Homo sapiens: one gene and its partners. Changing the gene in region 1 together with any one later gene gives a genetic interaction. Each region holds a gene or a part of one and is shown in the gene's direction. Other genes may lie near its edges.

Region 1 (4,054 bases):
AATTGCAGACCAGCACATACACTGGACACTGCAGGCAAGGTGTTGGTAACTGCCTGCTCTAGGATGAATAGTAGCGTTAGCAGCACCCTACAGAGGGTAAGTTTCAGAATTGTAATTTGAGAACTCCTTCAATTATATTGACTTTCTTTGGTTTTCCTTGTGCATTAGGTATATATTTTTTGAAGTATTTTTGCCAACTAAAATGAAGTCTGTAAATTCTGTTAATAAACAAGGAGTTCATCCGTTGCTCACATCTTTCATTGGTGCCCTCTGAACTCTGTGGGTTGCTAGGATGTAATTTTAATGCTTCCCTGCAGTCCAAAGATGATTTTTTCACCACAAATGGTAAGGGATGCCCACCTACTTTTATAAACACCACTGCAACTTAACAAGTTTATTTATCTATGTCCAGATTTCTGTTTCTGTCCTAAATTGATCTGTGTTTTTAGGTGGATCAACTTGGATCTTTAGACCTCATCTATAAATTGAAATTATATTTTTAGTCATAAGCCAAGTACAATCTAACTCAGAATGGGATTAAAAATTTTAGAAGCAGAAGCTAATATATAAATGAAGTTTGGGATTTGGAACTTTCTGTATCTCTTAGGAGGAACAAGTAAAAACCAAATGGTTACATTGTGCTGCTAGAAATAATGTCATTCTCAATTAAAAGGGTTACACCTGTAGCCACTTGACACTAACACCATCGAGGGCAATTAATCAGGAGAAAAGTAAATATAAAAACTTTGCTCTTAACGTCACACACTACAGGGTAATTATGTAATTCTCTAGCACTCAATTAAGAAGCTTGTAGGTTAGCAAAATTTCAGTTTCTCTAGTTCAGCCAGTGTCTTGTCCTTAGTAATTATTTGCTTTCCCTGCAGTTCAATTTCTCCTTGGAACTCTAACAGGACTAACTGGAAAAATACTTTGACCATAGCTCTAGTACTTCCAAATAAATTCATATCTAGATTTTCAAACAAAGCCCCAAGATGAAGTCTAATTCTGAAAATATCTCACAATTTTTGAATGTTCTTTTTATCTTACCGACCTAACTTCTCTTTTCCCTCCCAACTTGGCCTCCCACACGTTCCATTTCATTTTGGCCATTATAGTCACATCCGTTTGACTTTGGTTGTGACATCTTCCTTTCAGGATGATGGAATTAGATGCAGTCTGTCTTTGAGTGAGACTGGTCACCATCAGAGGAGTTTTTTCTAAGTGACGTGACTAGAAGTTGAAATCTACTTCCCTGCTAAAGGGCACAGGGGTGGTGTACAAAGAAAGCTACCTTCCCAGAGCAAGCAGGCTGCATTTTAGCTATGGAAGTGACCTGCTGTGACACTGTGCTCTCTTCTGTGGGCTTAATGGTTCCTTTGCTATGAAGTGGCAAATTACATGTAGAGTGTCTCCTTCCTTTTCAGAGAACAGTTAATCAAGGCAAATCAGCAAGCCCCCAAAGTGCTGTAATTTAACATCATGATTACCACCTTCGAAGCTATATATTTTGCATACTTTAAAATCACCTAACTTGGACTGCTTGAATTACATTGGCTTTTAGAACCGAAATTGTAACTATGTATTGTATTTCATGGGAGGTATATTTTATGAGCTTTTTGGCTTTCTTTTTTCCCACAGCAACTGCCAATGAAGGATGAATCCCCTTTTTAAAAAGTTGTTGTTGTTGTTGTTTATTTGATTTTGAGTTAGGAGGGATAATAGAGAAGTCCATTTAAAAATTATTTTTAGAAGCTAAAGAAAGTAATTATGCTTCCTGTGAATTGTCTTTTACTGGCATCTTTGTTTTCCTCTTTGATGTTAGTAAATTTGGTGTAATACGTGGGGCTTCCATATTTCAAAGTGGAAGCTTTCTTCTCTGAAGTCGATATATGGTTTTGAATTACTAGAGCTTTGGTCAGTATTTCCTTCCCTATATGTCACAGAGGGCACCACTGAGAACTGCGTGCATAGGACCTCAAAATACAAAATTAGCAGGGCCTCACAGTCAGCTTCCTCATGGCTAGTTTTTCCCCCTTATATTACAATTTTTGTTTTATAAGTCATTTTTTTCCTGATATTTCCACCACTTTTCAGAGTCATCTACAAAATTTTTCTTTCCTCAAGAAAAGAGTTCCTTTTGCCTTATTCCTTATGCCTTCCCCACTGGTATTGAGGGTTTTGATAATAAATTGGTAGGAAAAAAAAGTACCTCCTAGAAGGAAGCCTTCCCCACCATTTCCAGGTGCCAACTGCTAAGCAGATATATTCCAAAAATGGTAACTGTCATGTGCACACTGTTGGTTATTTTTAATAAGCCTCTTCCTACTAGAACATTTTATTTTCCTTGTTCACCATACAATCATGTACTCTTTAACAGAAATTGCTTTTAAAAAATATCTGGAACTATCTTTAAAAAAACTTTATTAATAATCATGTATTTTTACTGATCACATTTTGAAATGCCTAAAAGACTTTATTGTTCTAATTATCCAGATGTACCTTTGTAAAATAGCTCTTTTATGAATTAGCTGATAAGGCTGTATGTTTCTGGAACAAAATATTGGTCATCTAAAAACTTTCTGTTTTCTGGGGTCTGGGAAAATAGAAAATAAGATTTCAAATATTAAATAAGCTTAAAGGAACCAAGCATGTGACTTTTTATTTGTATTCTGGTTGATTTGTCTTGTCCAAGTTATATTAGAAAAGTTGAGGAGTCGAGGAGCCTGTAATTAATTTTCCTGTCAGTGACTGTCAGACATCTTCCTGCTTATTAGAGCATCCCTAGCAACAAGGCTAAACCTTCATGACAGTGCTGGCAGGTGGGCTTGCCCTAGCATGTGGGGCAGGTTTGTTGTTTTTTTAATAGCTTTATTGAGATATTCACATATCATATAATTCATCCATTTAAAGTGTATAATCAGATGGGTTTTGGTATATTATTGATTTTTAATTGTGGTGAAATATATATATAACAAAATTTGCTATTGTAACTATTTTTAAGTATAAAGTTCAGTGAGGTAGGCCAGCTTTTATGACGCACCTGAAGATAACTTTGGTTTTAATCCTACCCTAAATGAAGCATATGCCTCTATTTTTCCTGTCCCCAGTGCTGGGCTTCTTCACATACCAACATTTCTGTGCTTTTACCAACAGCATTTTAGCTCAGAAGGCTCGCTTACTTTGGGCATTTGCTGTATTTTGGTTTTGAAATACTTGTAATTTGACTTATTCTTGGGATAATATTTTAGTTTTCAGTCATTCAAGGGCACATTTGGCTGACGGAGCTAATAAGCGTAATAAAATGCTTAGTAGTTTATACCATCTTTTAGTTAAACATTTTAAAGATTAAGACTATTCAAATGTACTTTGCGGAAATTAACCTGTTTGTATGCCTGGCTTTGTTTACAAACATATATCTATATCTATATATATAGATACAGATACAGATACATATCTGGTGGAACAAAGAAATACCTGTACCATTCCCACTTGCTCTTTGATAGCCACCTCCTAGGAATGGAGACAATAAAACTCTGTATTTGCATGTGAGCAGTTACTTCTATTTTTTACTGCCCTCTTTCAAGCTAAATGACTGGTTTACCAAAGGTTTATTACCAACTTCAAATATAAGAGGATCTATCCTGATTAAAAAGTTGCTTTTTAATTGAACTCGTTATCTCCTTGATGTTTTATGACAAATGTCATAAAGCATGAGAGATAAGTAGCTGGATGTAGGTGTTTCCCATTTTCTCTATAATGTCAAGGATAATTCTTGTTACTAATTGGAAACACTTCCTCAACTTTAGCTGTCAGGGAATATGTTTGTTTTGCCACTTATTTTTACTAGTGAGACATCATCATTCCCTTAGCATCAGCAGAGGCCTTGGTTTGAGATCATTTAAGGTATGTAGAGCTCTCTTTCTAGATTTTCCCCCTCAATTGATTAGAGTGCTTTTGGACCGACCTGTAATTTAAGGCATTTTATTTTAAGGGATCTTTTTCTTTGTACGTGTGATCAGAGGGTTGTGGCTGCCTGAACACATGCTAATCAAAA
Region 2 (7,208 bases), on another chromosome or scaffold:
GACCAGACCACCTCCCAGGTTTTAATTTTTAATATCATACCATACAAGGTATTGTCTTTATAGATTCTTCCCCAGCCTGCCACTATTATTCTAAATTTGCAATACCCGATTCCCAAAGCTCCACGATGATAATAATAACAATATGACCATTTACTGAGGGCCTGTTATGTGCTAAGGTCCAGTTCTAGGACCTTATCTGTATTAACTTATTTAAGGTGTAGTACAGCTTTATTTTCATCCTGATTTTACAGACAAGGAAACTACGTCTCAGAGATACTGTATGACTTGTTGAAGGTCACACAGCTGGTAGGTGATGGAGCCAAACTTCAAAGTTCTCATGTTTTTCTCCATCCTATTATACACAGAGAATGCTGTGTGTCAGACTTCCAGTTCGGGGTTTGCAGTGTACTAACCATACTTCCCTTGCCAGGAGAGCTTAGCCACCTGGATTCAGATACTGGTAAGGCAGTCACCTTTCCCCAGCAGTGTAGAGAGGGCAAATGAGATAATGCACCTGTAAGTACTTCAAAACTTTTAGCATGCCGTACAAACAGAAGGGATAATTAAGAGATTATTGTGGACTATGCAGATAACCTTGTTTATTTAAAGCACCTTAGCCCATTGACACGTGTGGAGATGTCCAGAGACCTGGTCAAATCCTCAAATCGAATATTGCCGACAGCAGAAGAATTTCTCCCATAAAATGCCATAATGTGTCATTTAAAAATGTAAGTAACTCTTGGCCAGGCCCGGTGGCTCACACCTGTAATCCCAGCACTTTGGGAGGGCGAGGCAGGTGGATCACTTGAGGTCAGGAGTTTGAGACCAGCCTGGCCAATGTGATAAAACCCCACCTCTTTTAAAATACAAAAATTGGCCAAGCATGGTGGTGTGTGCGTGTAATCCCAGCTACTCAGGAAGCTGAGGCAGGAGAATAGCTTGGACCTGGGAGGCAGAAGTTGTAGTGAGCCGAGATTGCACCACTGCACTCCAACCTGGGCAACAGAGCTGCATCACAAAAAAAAAAAAAAAAAAAAAAAAAAAGAAAAGTAAATAACTCTTTAAAATGTTTAATGATTACATAAACACAAGGCATAAAGCTATAAAGATTTAAAAAAAATAGAGACAGAGTCTTGTTCTGTTGTTCAGGCTGGTGTGCAGTGGTACAATCATAGCTCACTGCAGCCTCAAACTCCTGGACTCAAGCAACCCTCCCACCTCAGCCTCCCACCATACCTGGCTTATTTATAAGGATTTAAAGTTAGTTGTGAGTGCTGTCTGGAGCACTTGCTGAAACTGTTTTGTGAATCAGTTTTTCTTAATTTCTTAAAACTGAATGAGGAATAAACCCTGTGTGAACTGGATGAGCCAAAAACCTGTTCTGAATTCTAGTCCACTCTTTAGTGATTCAAAATTCCCTATTTCTGTCTCAGAAACATTGCTTTCTTTGGATTCTCCAATTTCTCCTCCCTTCTATTTCAATACTAGTGTTTGGCCTTTTTTTTTTTTTTCTTTTTTTTTTTTCTTTTTGAGACAGAGTCCTGCTCTGTTGCCCAGGCTGGAGTGCAGTGGTGTGATCGCAGCTCACTGCCACTTCAGCCTCCTGGGATCAAGCAATTCTCATGCCTCAGCCTCCTAAGTAACTGGAATTACAGGCGTTCACCACCATGCCTGGCTCATTTTGGTATTTCTAATAGAGATGGAGGTTTCACCATGTTGGCCAGGCTGGTCTCAAACTCCTGGCCTCAAGTGATCTGCCCACCTCAGCCTCACAAAGTGCTGGGATTACAGCCTCACAAAGTGCTGGGATTACATGGTGTGAGCTACCATGCCAGACCTAGTATTTGGCCTTCCCGTTTTTGTTTTTTTTTTTTTGTTTTTTTGAGGCAGAGTTTTGCTCTTGTTGCCCAGGCTGGAGTGCAATGGTGCGATCTCGGCTCACTGCAACCTCCGCCTCCCGGGTTCAATCAATTCTCCTATCTCAGCCTCCCCAGTAGCTGGGATTACAGGCGCCCGCCACCACACCCAACCAAGTTTTGTATTTTTTAGTAGCGACAGGGTTTCGCCATGTTGGCCAGGCTGGTCCTGAACTCCTGACCTTAGATAATCTGCCTGCCTTGGCCTCCCAAAGTGCTGGGATTACAGGCATGAGCCACCGTGCCCAGCCATATTTGGCCTCCTATGGGAGGTCATTTCCACAAACAAGCAAGACTTTCTAATCATTTTCCAAGGATTACAAAATCTTGACTCATAAGTGATACAAATTCATGGCATGATTTGTAGTATTTGTAGCAAGTGACAAATAATACATATTATGTGCATTCAAGGTTGTCAGGGAGTTGGTTTTTGTTTTGTTTTGTTTCTGAAACAGGGTCTTGCTCCGTTGTCCAGGCTGGAGTACAGTGGCACGATCATAGGTCACTGCACCCTTGACCTCCTGGGCTCAAGTGATCCTCCCACCTCAGCATCTCAAACTGCTGGGACTGTAGTTGTGAGTCACCGTGCCCAGCCTTCTGGGGAGTTTAGATCTGTGACTAAGCAAAAAGAACAAATCTGGAGGCATCACTTTACCTGACTTCAAACTATACTATAAGGCTATCGTCACAAAAACAGCATGGTACTAATATAAAAATAGGCACAGAGACCAATGGAACATAATAGAGAACCCAGAAATGAAGCCAAATACTTACAGCCAACTGATCTTCAACAAAGCAAATGAAAACAAAGTGGGGAAAGGACAGCCTATTCAGCAAATGGTGCTGAGATAATTGGCAAGCCACATGTAGAAGAATAAAACTGGATCCTCGTCTCTCACGTTATACAAAAATCAACTCAGGATAGATCAAAGACTTAAATCTACAACCTGAAACCATAAACATTCTAGAAGATAACATCGGAAACATCCTTCTAGACGTTGGCTTAGGCAAAGACTTTGTGACCAAGAACCCAAAAGCAAATGCAACAAAAACAAAGATAAATAGATGGGACTTAATTAAACTAAAAAGCTTCGGCACTGCAAAAGAAATAATCAGCAGAGTTAACAGACACCGCACAGAGATTGGACTTTGGGGACTCAGGGTAAAAGGTGGGGGGTGGCGAGAGATAAAAGACTACACACTGGGCCAGGCGCGGCGGCTCACGCCTTTAATCTTAAGGGATACCTGAGCTCCTTCTAGGAGGTTCTGATTCAGTAGATCTGGGAGAGTCAAGAATCTGTAATCAGCTGATCTCTATCAAGAGCTGATTTTGGGCTAGCTCACGTGCTAAGTGTTTGGTAAGTTCATGTTCTCAGTTTATATCTTCATGACGATTTGAGCAATGTCAAGCCATAACCAATGTCGTCAATGACACCCCCGTTTTACAGATGAGGAAACGGAAGCTAAGAACATCCAAAAGGGTTTGTTGGGGGGGGTGGGGAAAGCTGCTAAAAAAAGTTATGCAACTAGTACACCTAGTAACTGGTCGACTGGAGATTCCAACTCAGGCCCAGCAACTCCAGACCCCACTCTCTCAATCACTGTGAGACATAAGACTTTTGGGGGAGCTTCTGGTGATTTTAGTGATTAGTCAGCTTTTCGCAAAGCCTCCTAGAAGCCCATGCCACTCTCAAAGGGTGCATGTGTTTGAAATTTATGGCCCATCCCCCTCCAGTGTTTCTGGAAGGAAAATAGTGTAGAAACAAGATCATCGGAGGGAATACGACGAGCAGCTGAACCTCTTATCAGCATTTCCCAGCCTTTGGGCTACTCCGCGAGGTCCTGGTCTCACAGGCGGACCCAATCTGGGAACCAAGGGAGAATCTTTCTGTACACCTGGCACTTCTCGTCACGCCCCGTCCCCCGAACACCCAATCCAAAGCCCGTTGGGCACGTCTGATGTCCACTCAGAGCAATTATAATTGGCCATGGCGGACGATCGCTCCGCCTCCCGGGCGACCCCGCCTCCCTTTCATTCTGAAAGAAAGAACCTCAGCCTGGGCGTCCAATGAGAAGCGCCTTCACCTCAAAGATCCCGCCTCTTTCGGCGTCGACCCCGCCCCGAGGCCGGAAGGGATGCCCGCCTCCCTTGGCGAGATGAGCCAATCGAAGGGCTCTCACGGCCAGATGGACGGCAGCCGGCCCAATCCGCCGGGCCTCACGCGGCGCCGCCCGCCCCTCCGCCGGGCCCGAGTGGCGGCCGGGCGACGAGTGCGGGCCTCGGAGCGACTGCAGCGGCGGCGGCGGACGCGGCCTGAGGCGAGCGGCGGGGCGTGGGGCGGTGCCTCGGCCCGGGCTCGCCCTCGCCGGCGGGAGCGTCCATGGCCCCCGGGCGCCGGCGGGGCGCGGCCGCGGCCTGAGGGGCCATGTCCGGGGTGGTGCGGACCCTCAGCCGCTGCCTGCTGCCGGCCGAGGCCGGCGGGGCCCGCGAGCGCAGGGCGGGCAGCGGCGCGCGCGACGCGGAGCGCGAGGCCCGGAGGCGTAGCCGCGACATCGACGCGCTGCTGGCCCGCGAGCGGCGCGCGGTCCGGCGCCTGGTGAAGATCCTGCTGCTGGGCGCGGGCGAGAGCGGCAAGTCCACGTTCCTCAAGCAGATGCGCATCATCCACGGCCGCGAGTTCGACCAGAAGGCGCTGCTGGAGTTCCGCGACACCATCTTCGACAACATCCTCAAGGTGACGCGCGCCCCCCGCCCAGCACCTGCACCCAGGTGGGCCGGGGCGCTAACCCCCGCCCCGGGCCCCTCCGTGGTCCGCCGCCGCGGGCGGGGACCCCTGGGGCGAGGATGCTGGATCCAGCCCCGCCTGCACCCCACTCCCCCCCGACCCATTCCCCGAGGCCTGCTGGCGTCGTCTCTGCCCCACCCCGTCTCGCCCTTTTTGAGATGGGGTCTCGCTGTGTTTCCCAGGCTTGAGTGCAGTGGCGCCCTCACAGCTCACTGCAGCCTCGACCTCCCAGGCTCAAGCCCTACTCCCTCCTTAGCCTCCCGAAGTAGTGGGATTACAGGCGCGCACCACCAGCCCAGCTAATTTTTAAGTTTTTTTTTGTAGAGATGGGGTCTTGCTGTGTTGCCCAGGCTGGTCTCAGTCTCCTGGCCTCAAGTGATCCTCCTGCCTTGGTCTCCCTCAAGTGCTGGGATTATAGGCATGAGTCATGGCGCCCGGTCTGCCTCTGCCCTCTCTAGGGTGCCTGGGGACCGTGGGAGTGGGAACTCGGGCCAGCTTCTGGGGATGGGGAGTGGGGGCTTGGCACTTAGCCCCCTCCTGGATGTGCCCTAGCAGAATGGTATCTGTCCATTTCCCACTGGAAGATTTGTGGGATAGGAGCCCAACCGGCCGTGCCCTCCGGCTGAGCTTAGAAGAAGAGCAGTGGAGACTGGACGGGAACCAGCCATGAGTCTCTTTTTACTTTTCTGTTTTTTTAGAAAGGCTCTCACTCTCTTGCCCAGGCTGGTCTCAAGCCATCCTCCCACCTGGGCCTCCCAAAGTGCTGAGATTACAGGTGTGAGCCACACTTTCTAATACGAAAACTTCAAATGTATACAAAAGTAGAGAAAATAGTAGATTGACTGTAAAGTACCTACAGCCCAACTAAAGCAGTCATCAATTCTGTGCCAATCCTATTCACCTGTGCCCTCCCCATGGTCTCCAAGCAAATCCAACTTTGTGTAGTTGGATTAGGAAACGTTTTAGGATGTATATGAGTGGCTAAAAGATGAGGCCTCCATGTAAAAACACAACCGCAGTACCATTAGCAAACCTAAACATTAGTAATAGCTCATTATCACCAGATATCCAGTGTTCAGAATTCCTCCATTGTGGCATAATTGTTTTGTGTGACTCGACATGCATTGCAATGAATCTCCAGATTCTCCTGTCTCTTGCTTCCTTTTTTCTCTTCGCCATATTTGTGAAAGAAGCTGTAGAAGTCGGCCAGGTGTGATGGCTCGTGCCTGTAATCCCTGCACTTTGGGAAGCTGAGGCAGGAGGATCACTTGAGGCCAGAAGTTTGAGACCAACCTGGGCAACACAGCAAGACCTCAGTGCCACAAAAATGAACACATTAGTTGGGCATGGTGGAATGCACCTGTAGTCCCAGTTGCTTGAGCGGCTGAGGTAGGAGAATTGGTTGAGCCTGGGAGGTTGAGGCTGCAGTGAGCCATGTTTGGGCCACTGCACTCCAGCCTGAGTGGCAGTGAAAAAAAATAAAAGAACCATAGAGTTGATAAAGTCGGGGTTCCAGTCTCTCAGTACCGTGAGCCTGTGTTAAAGGGCCTCAAGGAAGATCTGGAGGAAACTGATGATGAGGGAACAGTGCAGCCTTGCTTACACCTAGATAGCGTCCTTTGTCCTCCCTCCCTTTTTCCTTCCTTCCTTTCCTTCTTTTCTTTCCTTCCTTTCTTTTCTTCCTCCCTTCCCTTCCTTCCTTTCCTTCCTTTCCTTCCCGCCTTCCTTTTCTTCCTTTCTTTCTACCTTCCTTCCTTTTTTCTTTTCTTCCTTCCTCCCTTCCTTTCTCCCTCCCTCCCTACCTCTCTACCCTTTCCTTGTCCCCTCACCACTTTTTCCCCAGCCCATTTTGGGGAAACCAAGTTAGAGGCGAGGACAATCATCTCAAAGCAGAGTCGGAGAGAAGTTTGCCATGCCAGAAAACCTGCCTGGAGACTAGGTTTTATGGTGCCTGGGAGATTTTAAATTTAGCAAAGCCCCGTAGAAACCTATCGGGTACATTTGTATCACTTACCCATAAGGACTCCTGCCTCAGCCCTAGAGATGAAGTGACTCCTTCCTGGGGTCTCTGTGCTGGAATCCTGGCCTCCAGACTTCCAGGCCAGTATTCGCACTTGACATACTTCTCATGGAAATGTTTCATTTTAATAGAGCTCCTTTAGGATTGTGAAGGGAAGAAAATAATTTGATAAAACACCCTTTTTCATTTTACCTCTTTCCAAGCCTCTCGGTGCGTCAGAGCTCTGGTCAGATACTTCGTGAACTTTGAAGACTAGGTGCCCAGCTTAGCTCACTGGGAGCGTCTGTGTTCAAGTGCATTTGGCTGTCTCAGGGCCTGCCCTGTAACTTCTCTGTTAAAGATCCTGATTTTATTGTTGCTGCTTGCCCAGACCTCAGAACCAGGCAGGCATAAAAGTATAGCAGTTTGACTGTCTCTAGTTTCTTCCAACTCAGTAGATGGAGAAAGTATTTGGAAACATAGAATCTGAAATCTAAATCCCTGTAT
Region 3 (7,893 bases), on another chromosome or scaffold:
CTGTTAATCATAATTCTTACTTTTCAGTTTTCCTCCACATAATTTGTATTTAGTTGCAATTACAGGTACTCAAAGCATTGTGTTCTACTTTTAAAAATATAATCTTGTTCATAAGTTTTATTTCCTATCTCTTTTTCATTAACATAGGTAATCTTATTTTATTATTTAATTAATTAATTAACTTATTTAGAGACAGGTTCTTGCTCTGTTGCCCAGGTTGGAGTGCAGTGGCACGATCTCAGCTCACTGCAACCCTGCCCTCCTGGGCTCAAGCAATCCTCCTACCTCAGCCTCCCGAATAGCTGGGACTGCAGGTGAGCACCACCAAGCCTGGCTAATATTTGTATTTTTAGTAGAGATGGAGTTTCGCCATGTTGTCCAGGCTGGTCTTGAACTCCAGAGCTCAAAAGATCCACCCGCCTCAGCCTCCCAAAGTGCTGGGATTATAGGTGTGAGCCACCATGCCTGACCAACATAGGTAATTTTAAATGACAGCTTGACATTCCATACTGTTAATATATTTTACTTAAACATTTCCTTATTATTGGACATTTATTTTATTATTATAATGATCTTATAAATATACTTTGCATATGATGCTTTTTATTTCTTTTGAATTATTTATTTAGCATCTCTTCCCAGAAATATGATTATTGATTCTGTGTCCAATATTTGAAACTCCTTCCTTCTATGCAATAGTTCTAAAGAAGCAACTACTTTCAGCACATGATGGAAGGAGAAGCAGACATATCATAGGATCACAATGAAGTCATCTTCATGTAGGAACAGACTCTCCATGGAAGACTGATAAGGTCTGCATTATCGTCATTGTCATCATCATTTATTCATCAACAAATGTATTAATTATCTATGATGGGCCAGTTTCCTTTTCAGTAGGAAGATGGTTACAAAATAAAACCAGTGACTTGCACAAAAGAATGCAAGAAGCTGGCCGGGCATGCTGGCTCATGCCTGTAATCTCAGCACTTTGGGAGGCTGAGGCGGGCGGATCACAAGGTCAGGAGTTCAAGACCAGCCTGGTCAACATGGTAAAACCCCATCTCTACTAAAAATACAAAAATTAGCCAGGCGTGGTGGCAGGCACCTGTAATCCCAGCTACTCAGGAGGCTGAGGCAGGAGAATTGCTTGAACCCAGGAGGCAGAGGTTTCAGTTAGCCGAGATTGTGCCACTGCACTCCAGCCTGGGCAACAGAACAAGACTCTGTCTCAGAAAAAAAAAAAAAAGGCAAGAAGCTATAAATACAAATATATACACACATATATTTTTGCAAACCTTCCAGGTTGATTCTGCATGTCTTCTTCTGTACCATGTGGAATCTACATGTAAGTTAAAAAGAGGCATTTTCGTCTCTCAAGGAACTGAAATTATGTCAACCTGATACTGATCATCTAAACAAATAAACTTTATGGAAGCCATAGCGATATCTTGTAAGAAGGGAGAGTCTTGTCTCCCAAGAAGTTTATATTAATACCTTTTTCTCTGTATCTTGATTTTCTTAAAATAAAGATGGTTTTACTAATATTGTTTGAGTCTTCTTTTTGGAGGCAGGGGGAGAAATCTTTTTAAGTCAACTACTAGATTCCTTCTTTTGACTAGGGACGAATGTAAAAGTTTGAATTATACAGGCCCAAATGTAGTATTCTGTTTTCACCTAAAAAATAAAAATTAAAGAAAGACTAAATCTTTTTTATTAATCCCACCACATTCTGAGTTCAGTTTTTACACCTTTTCCTTAATGTAGTTGAAGTTCCCTAATGGCCTCTTTTTTTTGTCTGTCTCTCTGTCTCTTTCTCAACACCTTGCTGAAAAAAATTGCCATTGTTCTCTATTATGTGATCTATGGATGGTATACCTGTGGCAATTGCCTACTTAAACTGTATGATTGATAGTGTAACAAATGTCTTATTTAGAAAACTATAACTTTATGAAAATTACCCCAACTATTAAGAATTATGTTGGATCTAGGTGTTTTATTTACAGATCTGTTCTCTTTGGCTTTTCTGAGAGTTAGTAGGGACAATACAGACACTTTTCTCTCTTTTAATTTAAACTTTATGAAGAAATTATGTAAGGGTCTGGGTTTTCTGCCTTTTCAAACTTCATAAACATTGAGATCCTCATTACCATTGTCAAGAATATGAGCTACCATCACCTACCAAGAACAGGCAAGGCGAATTGGAAACTGGTTCTTCTAACCATCATAATATCAGTTAATTCCTTAAGGCAGTAGCTCTTACCTTTTTGGGATCAGTCAATATGATAAAAGTTCTAAGTCCTCTCACTTAAAAATATACGTACATAAGCATTTTTCTTGGGAGAAAATTAACTGTATTACTATAATTATATATCTATAACTCTCTTTCCTGCCCCCCAACACAGTTTTTTTGCATAGAGTTTCAGATGGTTTATGGTCCTGTCCCCTCAAAGTACATCTGTGCTAGGGGAAATTACGTTAACTAGCCAAAACAAGTACCTGAATGGGACAAGAGGCAGGAGAGACTCGGGTAGGGAGGAGAGAGTAGATCATAAAAAAGAAATTTTACTAGATTCATTCAAAGTACTAGTCATTATACTCAAAGTCCTCACTGGAGAGAGGATTTGTAATCAGAAGGCCTTGGTCCAAATCTGTGCCCTCTTCCCATCTCCCCTTTTCCTAGATAGTTGTCTGACTTTTGGAAAGTCATTGAAACCTCTCTGACCCTCAGTTGTTGTTGCTGTTATTGTTTTCCCTGTTAAATCAGGGTTCCCCAACCCGCAGGCTGTGGACCAGTACCGGTCTGAGGTCTGTTAGGAACCTGGCCGCATAGCAGGAGGTAAGCGGTTGAGCGGTGGGCAAGGGAGCAAAGCTTCATCTGTATTTACAGCCACTCCCCATTGCCTGCATTACGGCTGAGCTCCGCCTCCTGTCAGATCAGCCTTGGCCTTAGATTCTCTCAGGAGTGCAAACCCTAGTGTGAACTGTGCATTCGAGGGATCTAGGTGGTGTACGCGTTACGAGAATCTAATGCCTGATGATCTGAGGTGGAACAGTTTCATCCTCAAACCATCTCTTCCTGACACCTGTCCATGGAAAAATTATCTTCCATAAAACCAGTCCCTGGTGCCAAAAAGGTTGGGGACCACTGTATTAAATGGAATCTTGTTAGACTTCTCAGGGTTATTACAGTGATCAAAGGAGAAATGATATAGGAAGGCACTACTTTTAAGTCCCAAGCAAGCATGAGGTGTGATAAGTATCAAAGCACTTGCCATTCCCTTAGCTTCAGCCTTGGGTTGGCCGTCTGTCCTATCATTCAGGTCTCAGCTCCACTGTTACCCCAGAGAAGCCTCCAGTAACATCATATCTAAAGTAGCCTCCCTCTCCCTTTCACTCTCAATTCCATCACCCTGCTTTATTTTAGTCAAGACACCTCACTTACGAAGTGGTTTAATTTTTTGCTTGCCTGTTGATCATGTGAGACAAGTAACAAACGTTAAGAAGCCATGCTTGCTCATTTCTGCTTGTCAGCATAATTTCACACAGCCCCTGACTCTGTGACCACCTGCAGCTGGCGGAAAGATGCTTTGAAGACAAAACGAGATAGAACACAGGATCCCCCACGTCTCTTGCCTGAGCCCTTGCCTTTTACTGCACCTAAGATAAAGTCTGATGAGGTTAGTGATTATGCTTCTGTAATCTATAAACAGATGTACTCTTAAGCCCAAACTGTGATGTGCTTTTACACATACTGAATCTTCACCAACTGTTTCTAAATTGAGAAGGGAAGTTCTGTGTTGGAGGGATCTGCTTGAATCTCTCTAAAAGACTCCTCCAGGGCTGTAGGCCTCCATCTCTAGTCCTCAGTAAGACTTCTGAATAAAACTAACTTTCATTCTTTAACAGCTTGATTTTTAAATTTTAGTCGACAATCACTTATTGTCTTTCTCCTACAGTAGAATAAAAGTTTCCTAATGGCAGAGTCCTTGCCTCATCTTCCCCAGGCATGGGAACAGTTCCTGGTATAGGATGCACACAGATTTTGCTGATTCAGGATAGCCGTGAATAACAGTGGAGACTCCAGAGGAGGAAGACCTGGATTTGAAGCCCAGCTTCTCAACCCAGCTTCTCAATTTACTAGTTGGGTGACATTAGGCAAGTTATTTAGCTTCTCTCTGCCTCACTTGCACCGTATGTGAAAAGGGGGATTCTGATAATATACGCTTCAGAGAACTTTTAGTACATGTGAAGTACCTAGAACAGTGCCTGGCACACAGTTAAGTCTTACATGTGTTTTCTACTCTTCAGTGAGTTTAATGTTAACACATTAATAGTGCACGTGACCCTCTAAGTGTATCAGATATGCACTGCTCCCTCGGGTTTCACAGGAAAACCACTTACTCTTTTGGTAAAACAGGCTGCATGGCTCCACTGCTCCGCGTCACCCGCCTGGCCTCCCACCGCTTAGCGGAAGGGGAGGTGCGGTTCCTAATTCCGACAGGCACGTAGTCTTCCACAAGTGGCACTACTCGGGGCTCTCCTGGCTAGGGGCGTTCGAGCCACTAGGGGCGGGTCTCCTGGGATGGGAAGACTGGGGCTAGGGAGGTTCAACGCCGCCCCCGGAAACCTAAGGGACGCTCCCTGAAACTCACCGGGACGCGCTTCCGACCCATTCCGGTCACTTGCCTTGAAATCGCCGCAGGGCTGCGCAAACCTGCCACCCAGGGCCCAAGCGACCGGGGCGGGGCGATCGAGGACTGGGCGGGCCTGCAGGATCAGAGGCGGGGTAGGGCGTCCACGGGGCCAGCAATCGGGGCGGGGCGGGGTGATTGGGGGCGGGACGGGGAGATCAGAGGGCGGGGCGGGGCGCTTTGCTCTGGACTCTGGGGCGCTAGGCTCCGGACTCCGCGGCGCAGACTGCACCTCGCAGTCTCCCCAGGTCCGCCCAGCAGCCGCGCTTCAGCCAGGTAAGGGCGCCGCGGGCGGGCTGGGGCGGCCCCGGGAGTGCGATACTCCGGGCGAGGACGGGTGGGGAGGGGGATGAGCGCGGCAAGAGGCGGCTTCCACACGCCCCTCGAGGAACGGGGAAGGATTTTCTCCCCTCCGTGCCGCAGTGAGCGCGGGTGCGCCGTCTCTGGGTCCCCTCTTCGGTCCGGGAAGGAGGGACAGGTGCGCGCAGTGGCGCAGCCTCGCCTTCCTGCCGGCAGTAGATTCTCCACTTCTCCAACTCCCGCACTGACCTCTCCTAAGGAACACCCGCCCCTTTTTCTTGAAGTTCCAGGCCTGAGGCCGCCCTGCGGCAAGTTCAGCGTTGGGGTCACGTCCCAGCGGCGAGCAGGGCTGATGCCTCCTTTCGGGTTGGGCGGCGGCGCGATCTTGATTGAAATTTGGCAGTGTCGAGATAGATATACCTAATGTAAATGACAAGTTAATGGGTGCAGCACACCAACATGGCACATGTATACATATGTAACAAACCTGCACGTTGTGCACATGTATCCTAGAACTTAAAGTATTAAAAAAAAAATTTGGCAGTATCGGCCAAGATGTTCCGCAGTTGCACGTGACTCACCCAGTGAAGTTCACGTTCTCTTCCCCACCCCCCCAATACCCCGCCCACCTCGCCCCGGGAAGTTGTGTTTGAATATTGAAAACAGGTGCCCGGCCAATGTATGTACTTCTTGGAAAAACTAGGGCCTTGACCTGGGAGTGTACACTTTCCTAATTTTCTTTAATCCTAAATTTCTTGTGGATTTTATTTTATTTTATTTTTCCCGTGGACGTGTAACATGGTGGTGTGTACCAGGTTTGGAAACAATCTCATCCATTGCTATTCTTTGGAAACTGGAATATTTGATTCGAAAGATTGATCTTAATGTTAACTTGGAACAACAGGATGGCTGGTGGCTAAGTGGGTTTGAAGATTATCCAAAATAGTTATAAGTTTTGCGCGTATTCCTTGTATTTTTCCAGTGAATGCTCATTTTCCTCTTGGGAAATTCTGAGAATTTACTCACTTCTAGATTATTCTCTGCTAAAGAGCTGGGAAGAAACAAACCAGCGGATCTCCCAAATAAAGTTTGGGATTTAACAGTTTAGGTCGTGACACTGGTAGCTGCTTACTCTGCAATAATCACCTGGAGTAAGGGATATTAAGATTTATTTCTAAGGGGAAAATAGAAGTATGGGTAACTTTCACATTATGTATTTGAAAGTATTTTTTAGTTTAGTTACATTTTCAATGTTTACGGAAGACTTACACTTTCCCCATACTCCAGTTAATCTGATCCATATATTACACTCTTGCCAACGCAGATGCTTACTGTGGTGTGTTTATGTTAATGATCTTGACTCTTCTCACAAGGGTGTGTACATTCTGGTCTGTGGAACTGTATAGGCCAAGTGTAAACTCATGCAGTCAGTGCTTTACTCTAGTTGGCAATACCTTTGCCCCACATAGGTCCAACTAGAATTTTCACATCTTCCCAACTAGGAAAGGATATAGAATATTAATGTATGCTCTAGCATTTTCAACCTACTTTATTCTTTATCAAGATAATCATGTTTTCTCAGCAGCTAGTTACTCAAGGGCAGCAGCTATGTTTTACCAAACCGTGGAAAATAAAGCTGAGATAATGGTAACCTTTGCTTCCTTAAGTTGACCCTTGATAGGGAGGTTGGAAGGGTTGTGAGCAGTGTCTGGCCTACTTTTACGCTTGGGGAAGAATTACTGGCCTCTCTGCCTTTCTCCGGGTATCCAGAGTGCTGGGAGACAGGGCCTTGGGCCTCCAGCCACACCTCTGCCTACAGGTTCCTCCAGGTTGACCAGGTTGGTGCCTCTCCTCCCTGCCCCAGCTGTTCCAGCTCCTTAGCTTCCACCCCACCCCTCCCAGATTCTTACCCCTAGACAAATCACCATGTTGTTCAGGGCAGGGGTACTTGGTCTGCAGAGTCAGCATGAGTGTTGATCTTCAGCATGGTGCTGGTTCCCCGTGGATGCTCCTTGGATGTCTGCTGCTTCAGAGCCTTTATTATGCTCCCTTCTTGTCCAGTCTACAGCAGGCAAAGTGGAGTTACTGAAGTCAAACCCAGATCAACAGTCTTGGGGGCCAGCTGCCTTGGTTGGACTAATTACGATCATAAATTGGGCATTCAAGTCTGTTGGAAAAAAGTGAAATTGGCTCATGGTCACTGGCAATTGTAAAATTATCCTGTACGATGTGGTTATGCTATTATAAAAGGTTTGTGGAAAAATAAGAAACAACCCAGAAGGAAGGGGCCTAGTAGTTGCCTCCACCTCCAAACACGCCTGTGCTTGGGCTTGCCTTATTGTCACTACCCCAGCTCAACCAATTCTTCTGGGATTGGATTGTAACAATTAATTTCCCCACCATGTTTGACTGCTCAGAGCTCAGATGACCGCAGCTACTGTAGTATAGATGTAGAGAATTACATACTCTTTTGTTTAGAGAAACAAGGATGGGCTTTTTCAAAACAGATTGTTATTAGGGAAACAAAGAAAAAGCAAACAAATGTAAAAATGTGTGGGCACAGAAGCCAAAGTTTGTTTTGTTATGGTTTATAGTTTTAAACTTTTATCCAAGTTACATTTCTCCCTTTCCAGAAACAACCACTTGTAATTCTTTGCCATTTGTGGCTTATAGTTGATACTTCTTGATTTTTCAATTTTAAGCATTATCTGTTGACTTCCCACTGTGGAAGATGATGAGTTGGCTCTCTTTTTCCCTCCAACCCCCAACGCAAGTACAGCTTCCCTATTTTCCCATTCTTGCAGTCGTTAAAACAGAATATTGAATAATGGTTAGATCAAAATTCACAGCTAAGCCAAGCATAACTTTTTTTTCGTTTTTTTTTTTTTTGAGACAGAGTTTT

What was found.
Region 2: of ARHGEF12 (region 1) and GNA12, changing one enhances a phenotype caused by changing the other (phenotypic enhancement), as found in Homo sapiens cells (one study listed by BioGRID).
Region 3: of ARHGEF12 (region 1) and TEC, changing one enhances a phenotype caused by changing the other (phenotypic enhancement), as found in Homo sapiens cells (one study listed by BioGRID).

What each region holds. Positions count from the first base shown.
Region 1 is NC_000011.10:120,486,389-120,490,442, forward strand, and holds the end of ARHGEF12 (rho guanine nucleotide exchange factor 12), read left to right. Parts: 3' UTR 1-3,549; downstream 3,550-4,054. UniProt on the Homo sapiens protein: May play a role in the regulation of RhoA GTPase by guanine nucleotide-binding alpha-12 (GNA12) and alpha-13 (GNA13). Acts as guanine nucleotide exchange factor (GEF) for RhoA GTPase and may act as GTPase-activating protein (GAP) for GNA12 and GNA13.
Region 2 is NC_000007.14:2,841,296-2,848,503, reverse strand, and holds the start of GNA12 (guanine nucleotide-binding protein subunit alpha-12), read left to right. Parts: upstream 1-4,195; 5' UTR 4,196-4,342; coding exon 4,343-4,651; intron 4,652-7,208. UniProt on the Homo sapiens protein: Guanine nucleotide-binding proteins (G proteins) are involved as modulators or transducers in various transmembrane signaling systems. Activates effector molecule RhoA by binding and activating RhoGEFs (ARHGEF12/LARG).
Region 3 is NC_000004.12:48,266,826-48,274,718, reverse strand, and holds the start of TEC (tyrosine-protein kinase Tec), read left to right. Parts: upstream 1-4,880; 5' UTR 4,881-4,967; intron 4,968-7,893.